Linked DNA regions of Homo sapiens. The protein of the gene in region 1 interacts with the protein of each later gene in a pairwise test. Each region holds a gene or a part of one and is shown on either strand. Other genes may lie near its edges.

Region 1 (3,745 bases):
TTTCCGAGGTCTTAAGGAGTGGGAGGGTCTGAGAAGGACCCTTCACCCCAAACTCAGGGGTTAAGAGAGCGCCCCCTGCCCTTTTAGTTGGGCAGAGATATGCCTGGGTTTGGGAATGAACAACGGTGATCTAGAAGCCCGCTGTCCCTGGGTAGCAGGGAGTGATTAGGCAGGCACGGGCATGGCAAGACAATAGCTAGCTGAGGAAAGAAGCATTTTAAAACAGAGCGAGACCCTGTGGTAGAGGATGGTGAAAATGGGGCCTAGCCATCTTAATTGAAAACCCAAAGCTTGAGACAGACTACTGAATCAGAGGGAAGGAGAACGAGGGCTGCAGGATGGGGACAGTGGTGATGGTCCTTCTGTCCCCTCTTCCCTGCCTATTCCACTCCCCAGGATTGGTCCACCTCTCAGCCTCGGGTCTCCTTTCCCTAACCCATCCCCCAAGGAGCCAGGACCTGCCCTACATAACTTCCCTGGGGCCCAAGCACATCCTGTGACCCAAAAATGGAGAGAGGGGCCAATGAGAGGCAGAGAGGTGGGAGGAGGTGCAGAGAAAAAAGCTCTTGCCACTGCCCCCACCCAATATTTCCCCTCCCTTCAAGGTCTGAGGTCATTGGTCTGGTGGTGGGGATGCCTCGGAGTTTCCCAGGCTGACGTCAGGGTTATACCTCTCGGAGGTTCTAGGGCAGGGAAGTGGGGAGGGGAGGTTCCCTGAGATCTCTGTCTTTGAGTTTGGAGTTTGTCTCTGAGACAGATTTCGGAGGGGTCTTTCAGTATTTGTGTGGAGATCTTTCTTAGGATTGAGTTTCCTTTTATGCTTCTGGTTTGGGGGGTTTCTATGTTTCAGGGTCTGTGGTCGCACTCTGAGGTCTTTCGAAGTCTTCTTCATGAATTTTGGGTCTCTGAGTTGTCCATCTCCGGACCAGCTGAAGTCTCTATCTCCCCTTAAGTCAGGAGTGTCTCTGTCTCTAAGTTATCAGTCTCTGAGATCTGAGTCTGGGGTCTCTTTCTAGGTCTGAGTTCTCTAAGCTCTAATTCTACATCTGGCTCTTTCTGAATCTGGGCCTCATCTTTTTCTGAGTCTAGGTCTCAGGTCCTGGTCCCTGAAATCATCATCTCAGGGTCTGGAGTCTAAGATATCTGTAGGTATGGAGAACCCTTTTTAGACTGGATTTTCAGATTTTGATATTGAGCTTCTCTCTCTGGGGGATCTGGGGTCGTTTTTTCCTCAAATCAGGAGTCTCTTTTCCTCTAGATTTTGGCCCTGTGTCTCAAATTACCCCACAGTGGGGGGTGGTGAAGTATCTTTCTCTGTGGGTCTAGGGTCTCTCTGTCTCAGGGTCTGGGGTCTGCATCTTTAGGACCTCTGTCTCTCTCTGGTGTGTTTTTGAGTCAGGGGTCTCTCTCTCTCTCACAATCTGGGCCTCCCGGAGTAGGGGTGGGGGCTGCAGAGTCTCTCCCTCCTCCTCCTCCTCCTGCTCTCTTCGCTCTCGCTCGCTCCCCCGCCCCCCCTCTCTCTCGGCTGCCGCTGCTGCCGTTGGCTCTTATTCTCCTCCTCCTCCTCCTCTCTCCTCCTCTCTGCTTCTCTCTGCTCCTCTCTCCTCCTCTCTCCTCCTCCTCCTCCTCCACCTCCTCCTCCTTCTCCCCCTCTTTCTCCCCCTCTTTCTCTCTTCTTTCTCCCCCGTCCCCCCGCCCCCTCCCCCCAGGCCTGATGAGCAGGTCTCGAGCCTCCATCCATCGGGGGAGCATCCCCGCGATGTCCTATGCCCCCTTCAGAGGTACGTGGTGGGGGGAGGGGGAGGGCCATATGGGGGGCAACAGGGGGAGGGGCAGGGGGCGGGGGAGAGTCGGGGCCGAGGGAAGGGAGCGGCTGAAATGGAGGGAGAGGGGAGGACCGGGAAGGCAGGGGTGGGAGCAACCGGGAAGGAGGGATTGGAGGCCAGAGGGATAGGGGTAGATAAGGGATGGAGGGGCCAGGAAATGGGCCTTGAAAGGGGGCTGAAGGGAAAATGATGAAGGGGAAAGAAAGCGCCAGAAAGGGGTGGGAAGGTAGAAGGATTGGGTTGGGGAAAAAGCTGCAGAAATAATTTGGGGGTGGGAGCTGAGTGATGAGGAAAACATCAAGGAAATAGAGGGACAGAGTCTTGGGAGAGGGGCTAGGAAGGAGAAATGAAAACATAGGGGTGAAAAGAGAAGCCAAGAAGATGTGGGGGGATAATTTGGTGGGGGACTCAGAGTATGGTAAGGGGCGGAAAAAGAGAGGAGGATGGAGGGAGAGAAGGGGCCAGATGGAGAGAGAGGGAGGCAGTGGGGGGTGGGGGGATGGAGGGTCCAGATGGAGGGAAGAGAGAAGAGAGAGGGAACGGTGGGGGAGGGGAGACCAGGGCAGGGGGAGGGCCAAATTATGTGTGCTTGGGGGGGTGGCAGTACAAGTAAGATGAAATGATGGGAGTAGGGGACAGGTTAGGATCCTGCCCCAGACTCTGACCCTCTTAAAGGCTCTTGACCAGTAAAATGTAACCTCTGGGGTCTTAATGCTGTCTTCACTTCATCACTTTTACCCCCTTCCCCCACCCCTCCAATCCTTATTTCCATTCCCCCTCCCTCCTCTGCTGTCCATCACCTATATCTTTCCCCCCATATGGTGTCCGTTCCTTATATGAGTCCCCCTTCTGTCCTTCCCCTATATCAGTCCCCTCTCTGGTGTTCATTGCCTCTCTCTTATCTCTTTTCTATGTGGTCGCTCCCTTATATCTCTATCACTTCTTTACTAGTCCGTCTTGACCCCTTCTCATAGCCTCCGCATTAGGTCTGCCTCCTTTGCTCTGACACATGTCCAGTCGAGCCCTTCAGGTGTATTCCCTTGCCCCTGGGCATTTACCATCATTTCTGCCTCCTTTTCTATCTACTCCTATTATTTGTCTCCCAGACCATTCCTTGTCACCACAAGTCTGTGCCTACCCACTTTCCCTTAATACCTCAACTCTTATTATCATTTCTCTTTTCTTGTCTCCTCTACTTATTGGGGTGTTGGAGATTTGGGGTACAAAGACACAGGTTTTGATGATTAGAACAAGGGATCCCCATCTCAGCCCTTGAGGGATTTCTCATCCTAGTAAAAATTTCCCGTTTCTCAGCCATGTTGCTCTGCCTCTTGCATCTGCCTCCCAGAATCATTCTTCACCAAGTCCAGACAGTATGTGTGTGTGTGTTTCTAGAGTTGTTCCTAAGTTCCCTGCTGCCAGGAGAAAGATGCCCTCTGAAGTCTAACCCGCCTCCCTTGGCTGCAGCCTGAACCAGCCCTTTCCCCAAATGCTTATGTGTATCAACAGATTTCTCCTCTGGGTATACCAAGTGTCTAAGTGCGGTGGGCATGTTGCCTGCAATGTCTGTAGTTTCAGAGGCTAGGTATTGGTGATCTCTGTATCTAGAGAACATTAGTTAGTCTCTGAGATGGGTTGAGATAGAGTTTCAAAGTATGTGGTTTCTAAATGGTGGACATTCTGAGGGTTCATCGCTCACTGTGATCTGGAGGTTGGGTAAATTTGAGAGACATATTTATAGACAGAAAAGGGCTGAATTTGCAAAACTCTGCTACTCAGTGCATTCTGTTGGAATGAAGCTCAAAGACCAGTTCTCCTGCAGTATACTCATGGTTATCCCATAAAGGTGACAGAGTTTGATCTTTTTTCCATCTAAAATCTGATACCTTAAGCCTAATTTCTAGCTCTTTGCTGTCGCC
Region 2 (3,645 bases), on another chromosome or scaffold:
TTGAAAACCGTGCGATCCTGCGTACCAGGAACGCACCTCGCACGCTGCGTCTCCTTCCCCCTCGCATTCCCTGCCCGGCCCCAGAGCCACTCACAGTTTTGTCATTGGGCTGCTGCTGCTGGAGTTGCTTCATCATGATGCTTCGCTTCTTGTCCTTGCACCGCTTGTTTTGAAACCAGACCCGGATCACACGGGGACTGAGGCCCGTCATCTCTACCAGTTGCTCCTTCATGAGCGCATCTGGCCGCGGGTTTGCGGCGTAGCAGGTCCGCAAGGTGTGCAGCTGCTTCTCGTTCAGCACAGTCCGCACGCGGGTGGTCTTCTCCGGCTGCTTGTGGACGTGGGGCCGCAGGGCTGGCTGCCTGGCGGAGATGGGCTCCGCTGCGGGGCAAGGAGCGCCGTGAGCGCTGGGCTGGAGGCTCGCTTGCCGGCCCGCCCGCGGTCGCGCGCTCGCTCGCTCGCTCGCTTGCCCGCCCGCCCGCCCGCTTACTTGCTCGCCCGCCCGAGATACTCAGGACAATGGCTAGGGTTTGCAGCCTCAGCACACAAAGCAGGGGGCGGCAGAGGTGGGGGCGAAGAGGGTGAAAGGGAGAATAAAATCTTCCTCTCTAATCTGCAGAGGTCTTTGCTGAGTAATCCCGGCCTGAAACGCAGCACTCGCCCCTCCTCGTGTCAACAAAGTGTTAGCCAAGGGAAGCAGGTCTCAAAGTCTGTCCCCCTGTTCACAGCAGGGGTGGCATTTTTCAGCACTGTTTCTCCTCCATTCTCACCTTTCCTTGTGCCCAGACTGGGCCCCAGTTACATTGATTACCACCCTCTCCAGGATCAGAATTTTCTCTTGGGCCAAGGCCACAGAGGGTACCAGGGAAAGGAACGCAGAGCACTTCAGTGACAGCCATAAATACTACACCAGCAGGGACTTCTGCAAGGGGAAGGTCGAGAACTCTGCCAGAACGCCTTGAACTTCAGTCCGAGAGGACAGTCATGTGAAGGGGCTGAAGAGATTCGCTATTTCTGCCATATCTCCAATCCCTGCTCTTAGTATTAAATCTAAGGTAATACATGGATGTTCCTGAGATGGGCTGATCCCAAGCAGTGGAAAACGGAAACTCTGTTGAGCTGCCTAGGCTCTAGATAAACGGTGGCTGGGAGATGTCCCCCGCCTCCCTCTCGGTATTTTAGCTTCCTCTGTGCTTCCCCACAAGCAGAGTGCAGGCTCCACTGAACAGGAGCACCACCCCAGCCGTGCCCCGGTGCAAACTAGTCACAAATCCCCCTGAACAGAATTCTTAGAGCTGCCAGAAGGCAGAAGGGTAAGGGAGGGCTATAGTTTCCTCACCTTCAGTGTTTAGTGGGAATTGATACTTTAAAACTGCAAAGGGGTAGATCTATTCATGGCAGGAAGTCAGGTTTGGAAACACTGTCCACCTTCTAACCCACTGCTTTGGTCCCGGCCAACCTTGCTGTGTTTCCACTCCTCTTCCTTGGGAATGAGTCCTCTTATCTACATGATACAAATCCTGCACCTTCTACAACCCCCTAGGGTCAGGCCAACACCTATGGGGTCAATTTAGAGCTACAACCATGGGCCTGAAGATGAAATTCTCACCAAATCATATAGAATGAATGATTTAAAGAAGCAGGCTCCCTTTAAAAGGCAATTACTGCAGATAAGCTTGTTGACAGTTTTATATTACAACTCTGTGCAATGGCCTGCAGTTTTTAAAACTGTATCTTTTCAGTCCTGTTCTCTCACAGAAAGATAAAAAAATTAAAAAAAAAATTTCGAGTGTGAAGCAACTCACAAGGAAAAAGGATTTGGGAGACTAAATGACTTCAGGCCACCTAAGCTTCCTTCATTGGGTTAAAGGATGAAGCTCCAGGGACCCGGGGCTCCGCCCCTTTAATTAGGCAGCAGGAGAATACCTGGCTGGGAGCTGAAGCCCGTTTTCAGCAAGCCAAGGTTTGGAGGCCAGAGCGAACTGGAAGTAATGTTTGGGCGTGTGTATACACGTGTACACAAGTGGTGTACATTTATGTGTAACCATATAGAGACACACAGACGGTGTAGGTGTGCTCGGGGAATCAAGGGAGACAGTGAGTGCATTGAACCTTGCTGCAAAGGAGCAGAGCACAGCGCAAATTGCATACAGAACACTTCATTTAACTGCAGGCAAACACTACGACCACCCCTGTAGCTACCATAGTTGTTGTGGCCGCTGGCACACAGGCTGGCTTAACCTGGCGCCTGCCTACCCGAGCCGGGCAGAGGAGTACCTGCCATTTGCAGTGGCCGCGCTGGATGCAGGGGACTGAGCGGGTCGCCAGCGCCTAGACTGGCCCTCTCCACCACATCGTGGTCTGCTCGGCAGAAGAGACCGTCCTCCCGAAGCGCAAATTCGTCCCCAGGGATGAGCTGGCGGCTGCAGGCCACACAGCGGAAACACTCGATGTGATACACCTTGGAGCGGGCACGCATCACGAAGTCGTTCTTGCTGAAGCCGATGCTGCACTTGGCGCATTTGATCCCGTACAACCTGTGCGGGGGAGGGGGGAGCGGAGGCGGCCCAGAGCGGGGAGAGAAGTACAGGAAGAGGGGGTCACTTCAGGCCGGCACTTCCCTGGCCCAAGATCCCGGGCAAGACGCCCCAAGTAAACAGCATTTCCAAACAGAAGTTGGAAACAGAAGGACAGAAATGAAACCCTGCTCTCTCCTTCCCTGTCTCTCTTCCTTCCCCCATCTCTCTTTTCCCCTCCCTCCCTCCTCCCTTTCTTTTACTCCCGTTTCCTTTCCGATGAACCTCTGTCTTAGTTGGTAACTCTTAGCTCAAAACACCTAGCTTGTACCACAGAAAATGTATTGATGGGTTCCAAACTCGGGCTGCTGCTCTAGCAATCAATCCCAGTGTTGATCTTGCAGATCTTGGCAGGAAGGAATCCAGAAAGACTCTGGTGGCCACCGACACCAACACTTTCACTTCCCTATCCCACAATTTCTGCTGCTAGAAATGTCTAAAACTGCAACAAAAAGTCCTCCTTCCAAGAAAAAAGGAGGTAGGAGAAGGGGATTGTCACCCCACTCGGTTTGCAAACACTCACAAATAAACAAGCAGAATAACAAAATGAAACCTCTGAGAGTTTCCACATCTCCTTTTGCACAAGTACTTTCCAGTCTTTCTCCAACTAAAGATTTTCTTCAGGCAGCAATGTTAACAGAAAATTTCCTCTCCATTCTTCCTTGTATTATTATTTTTTTAAAAAAATCTGCGTCTGTTCCCTCAATCTTTTTCAAGTTGCTGAATCATCTACCTCATTTCAATTTTCTTGAAAACCATGACCAGAATGAAAAAAATGCAAAGACCCGCTTCTAAGGTCTTTCTCACTCCTGGCCTTTCCTTACCAAGGGACAATCTTTATAGGTTCCATCTAGGCTGCACTTCCCTGGCCCCTTCTCCATCTTTCAGGAATAACAGAAGCTGGGGCATTCCTACGAACAGAAAGAATGGAAGAGAGAGGAAAAGATCCACATAACAGGAGGAGGCATCCTGCTTCTCCAAGGAGAGATGTGGAAATCTAACTGTCCAGTCTGTTCTGCTTTTACAACTACAAGATTACACACACACACACACACACACACACACACAC
Region 3 (3,645 bases), on another chromosome or scaffold:
CCTGGTGTGTTTGGGAAAAATGGGGGAAGTTCAAGTTGCTGGAACACAGTAATTGGGGCAGGAAGTAGGGGGAGATGAGGGCAAGGATGTCATGGGGAAGAATGTGCAGGGTTTTGCGGTCCAAGGAAAGGACTTTGGCTTTTCTGCTGAGGAAGGTGGGAGCCATAGAGGGTTCTGAGCAGAGGGGGGATGCGACCTGGCTCAGGTGTTCACAGGCGCCCTCTGGCTGCCGTAGGGGGGACAGACAGTGGGGGATGGGAGCAGGGGGGGCCAGGGTGGAGGCTGCTGCACTGGTCCAGGTGATCAGTAGTGAAGGCTGGGCCAGGGTGGGACAGTGGCAGTGGGGTGAAGTGTGTGGATTCTGGATAAGGAGGAAGGTAGAGCCTACAGGATTTAGAGTGGGTTGGATGTGCATGTGAAGAACAGGTGTCGAGAACAACCTGAACCTGGGGACATGAGCACTTAGGAGGACAGAGTTGCCATTAGTGAGTTGGGGCAGATTGGAGGCGGGCGGGAGCAGGAGGCACCCGTGCTGTGTATGAAGTGCCCTTGACACCCCCATGTGGGGCACCTGGATGCAGTTGCCACCAGGGGTGCAGACTGGGGACATTTGGGAGCTGATGACTAAAGACCTGAGTGTCCCTGGGGGGCCCAGTGTAGCTGGGAAGAGAAGGGGCCAGTGTCTTAGGTCCACTCTCTATAGGAGTGGGAAGAGTGGCTGGGTGTGGTGGTGCATGCCTGTAGTCCCAGCTACTTGGGAGGCTGAGGTGGGAGGATGGCTTGAGTCCAGGAGTTGGAGGCTGCAGTGCAGTATGATTGCACCTGTGAATAATAACTGCATTTAGCCTGGGCAACACAGCAAGACTCCGTCTTTCAATAAAATAAAAATAGGCCAGGCATGGTGGCTCACACCTATAATCCCAGTATTTTGGGAGGCCGAGATGGGAGAACTGCTTGAGGCCAGAAGTTCAATACCAGCCTAGGTAACACAGTGAGATCCTGTTTCTACAAAAAAAAAAATTTAAAGATTAGCTGAGGCCGGGGGAGGTGGCTCACACCTGTAATCCCAGCACTTTGGGAGGCGGAGGCGGGCGGATCATGAGATCAGGAGCTCGAGACCAGCCTGACCAACATGATGAAACCCTGTCTCTGCTAAAATTATAAAAATTAGGTAAGGCGCGGTGGCTCACGCCTGTAATCCCAGCACTTTGGGAGGCCGAGATGAGCGGATCACAAGGTCAAGAGGTCAAGACCATCCTGGCCAACATGGTGAAACCCGTCTCTACTAAAAATACAAAAAAATAAAAAAAAAATTAGCTAGGCGTGGTGGTGGGCGCCTGTAATCCCAGCTAGTCAGGAGGCTGAGGCAGGAGAATTGCTTGAACCCGGTAAGCAGAGGTTGCAATGAGCCGAGATGTCGCCATTGCACTCCAGCCTGGCGACAGAGCAACACTCCATCTCAAAAAAAAAAAAAAGAAAAAAAAAATGCTGGTCAGGCGTGGTGGTGGGCGCCTGTAGTCTCAGCTACTTGCGGGGCTTAGGCGGTAGGATTGCTTGAGCCCAAGAGGTCGAGGCTGTAGTGAGCTGAGATCACACCATTGCATTCCAGCCTGGGTAAAAAAGTGAGATCCTGTCTTTAAAAAAAAAAAAAGGTCAATGTTTGTTGATGGACTGTCAAGCATGTGATAGTGATGTGAGCCGGCTATTCAAGGATCCCTTTGGGGTCACATGTCACCCCAGGGAGACATGTCCTCCCTAGGTGGCAGGTCCCCATCACTCTATACAGGCAGTCCAAGTTGTTACAGCCACTGCCATGTCCCCTCTCCCATATCTGACTCAGCCCCACCCCACGGTGACAACTCTAGAGATACTTATTGAGTGACGGATGGGTCACTTCTGCTAACTCCGTGATGGTTTAGACATGGCCTCACTCTCTCCATCTGTGAAATGGGTCTCTGCCTCACCCCTGTCCATCTGACCCCCTCACCCAGGTGTCCTATGCCAGACCCAGTTCAGCATCCATCCGGGATGCTAACCTGTACGTCAGCGGGCTCCCCAAGACCATGAGCCAGAAAGAGATGGAGCAGCTCTTCTCCCAGTACGGCCGCATCATCACGTCCCGCATCCTGGTGGACCAGGTCACAGGTCAGGCAGTCAGGGAGGGTGCACCTGGCGGGGGCGCTGGGCAAAGGCAGTCAGGTGGGACCAACGTGGGGAAACCGACCAAGATGCCAGGGCATGAAGCAGGGAAGGGAGAAGTGGGGTTACACAGGAGGGGACAGGGTCGTCGTGATGGACATCCCTGCCCCCTGGCAGGTGTCTCTCGGGGTGTGGGATTCATCCGCTTTGACAAGAGGATTGAGGCCGAAGAGGCTATCAAAGGACTGAATGGGCAGAAGCCGCTGGGCGCAGCTGAGCCCATCACAGTCAAGTTCGCGAACAACCCAAGTCAGAAGACGGGGCAGGCGCTGCTCACCCACCTCTACCAGTCATCCGCCCGGCGCTACGCAGGCCCCCTACACCATCAGACCCAGCGTTTCCGGTGAGCCCCCTGCCAGCCAGATGGCCCCAGGCCGGGTGCCCCCAAGCTTGCAACCCTCCCTGAACCCCATTCCTGCCGAAGGGAGGGATGCCGGGAGGGTGCGCACACATGGGAGCCAAGGAGCCTATCTGTCAGGTGCCAAGGCCAGCCACTCATATACAGCAGGCCCTCAATGTGTGCTGGCCGCGACGATTGGCATTCTTGGTGTTAAAAGATTTTGGCGTCATCTGGGTTCCAGCTCTGGTGGCCCCTTTCTCTTTTGGGCACGTGGCTGTAGCTCTGTGCCTCAGTTTCCCATCTGTAATAACACCAAATATTTCATGAGTCTTTGCTGTGTGCTAGACACCCTTATTTTTCTGCAACCCGATGAGAACAGAGCTTGTGTTGTCCCTGTTTTATGGACGGGGACCCTGAGGCACAGAGAGGTGTTGGGGTTTGCCTGGCCCAAACAGAGCAGAGACTCAAACCCAGGACCTGGAGTCCAAGCTCATAGCCACTCCAAGGGGAGACAATGGAAGCCCCTTGTGGGCCCCCGGGTGGCCGGGGCAAGTTACCCACCCCCTCAAGTGCTGCGAGAATGTTGGCTGTGGTAGTTACTGTCGCCTTTGTTAGGAGTTATCTTTCCCCAGGGATCCCAGCGCCTGGGCCCAGAGGGGACCCGCCAGCCAGGAGGGGGAGGATGGATGAGGAGGCCAGTGCAGGCTGGACAGCGGTGGGGCAGGCGAGAGGCGGTGCCTGAGTGACCACGGTTCCGTGCCAGGCAGTGTCTAGCCGGGCGGGCGGGGAGCAGGCAGGCGGGGGCAGGGCTCTGCTGCAGGCCTGTTGGGTGGGGGTGGGGAGGGCAGGCCGACGGTGTCACAGCAGGGGGGCGTGACTGGAAGCCACCTCTGACCACCACCTCTGCCTCCACAGGCTGGACAATTTGCTCAACATGGCCTACGGCGTCAAGAGGTAACAGTGACCCCGCCCCACTGTCCCCACCCCTCACCATCCATGCCCCTGATGCACCCCTCCCCAGCTCACCCCCAGGGCTGCAGGCTTAGCCTTGTTTGCCTGGGTCTTGGAGTAGCATGGCCATTGAGAGATGTGACATCAAAGCCAGA

The links.
Region 2: the proteins of SYNGAP1 (region 1) and ISL1 interact in binary tests that used the Homo sapiens proteins (3 or more experiments, as listed by UniProt).
Region 3: the proteins of SYNGAP1 (region 1) and ELAVL3 interact in binary tests that used the Homo sapiens proteins (3 or more experiments, as listed by UniProt).

What each region holds. Positions count from the first base shown.
Region 1 is NC_000006.12:33,418,551-33,422,295, forward strand, and holds the start of SYNGAP1 (ras/Rap GTPase-activating protein SynGAP), read left to right. Parts: upstream 1-1,514; 5' UTR 1,515-1,714; coding exon 1,715-1,781; intron 1,782-2,451; exon of another isoform or gene 2,452-3,745. UniProt on the Homo sapiens protein: Major constituent of the PSD essential for postsynaptic signaling. Inhibitory regulator of the Ras-cAMP pathway.
Region 2 is NC_000005.10:51,386,382-51,390,026, reverse strand, and holds part of ISL1 (insulin gene enhancer protein ISL-1), read right to left. Parts: exon of another isoform or gene 3,427-3,645; coding exon of another isoform or gene 3,401-3,426; intron 2,538-3,400; coding exon 2,278-2,537; intron 382-2,277; coding exon 95-381; intron 1-94. UniProt on the Homo sapiens protein: DNA-binding transcriptional activator. Recognizes and binds to the consensus octamer binding site 5'-ATAATTAA-3' in promoter of target genes. Plays a fundamental role in the gene regulatory network essential for retinal ganglion cell (RGC) differentiation.
Region 3 is NC_000019.10:11,456,958-11,460,602, reverse strand, and holds part of ELAVL3 (ELAV-like protein 3), read left to right. Parts: intron 1-1,991; coding exon 1,992-2,145; intron 2,146-2,316; coding exon 2,317-2,542; intron 2,543-3,454; coding exon 3,455-3,493; intron 3,494-3,645. UniProt on the Homo sapiens protein: RNA-binding protein that binds to AU-rich element (ARE) sequences of target mRNAs, including VEGF mRNA. May also bind poly-A tracts via RRM 3. May be involved in neuronal differentiation and maintenance.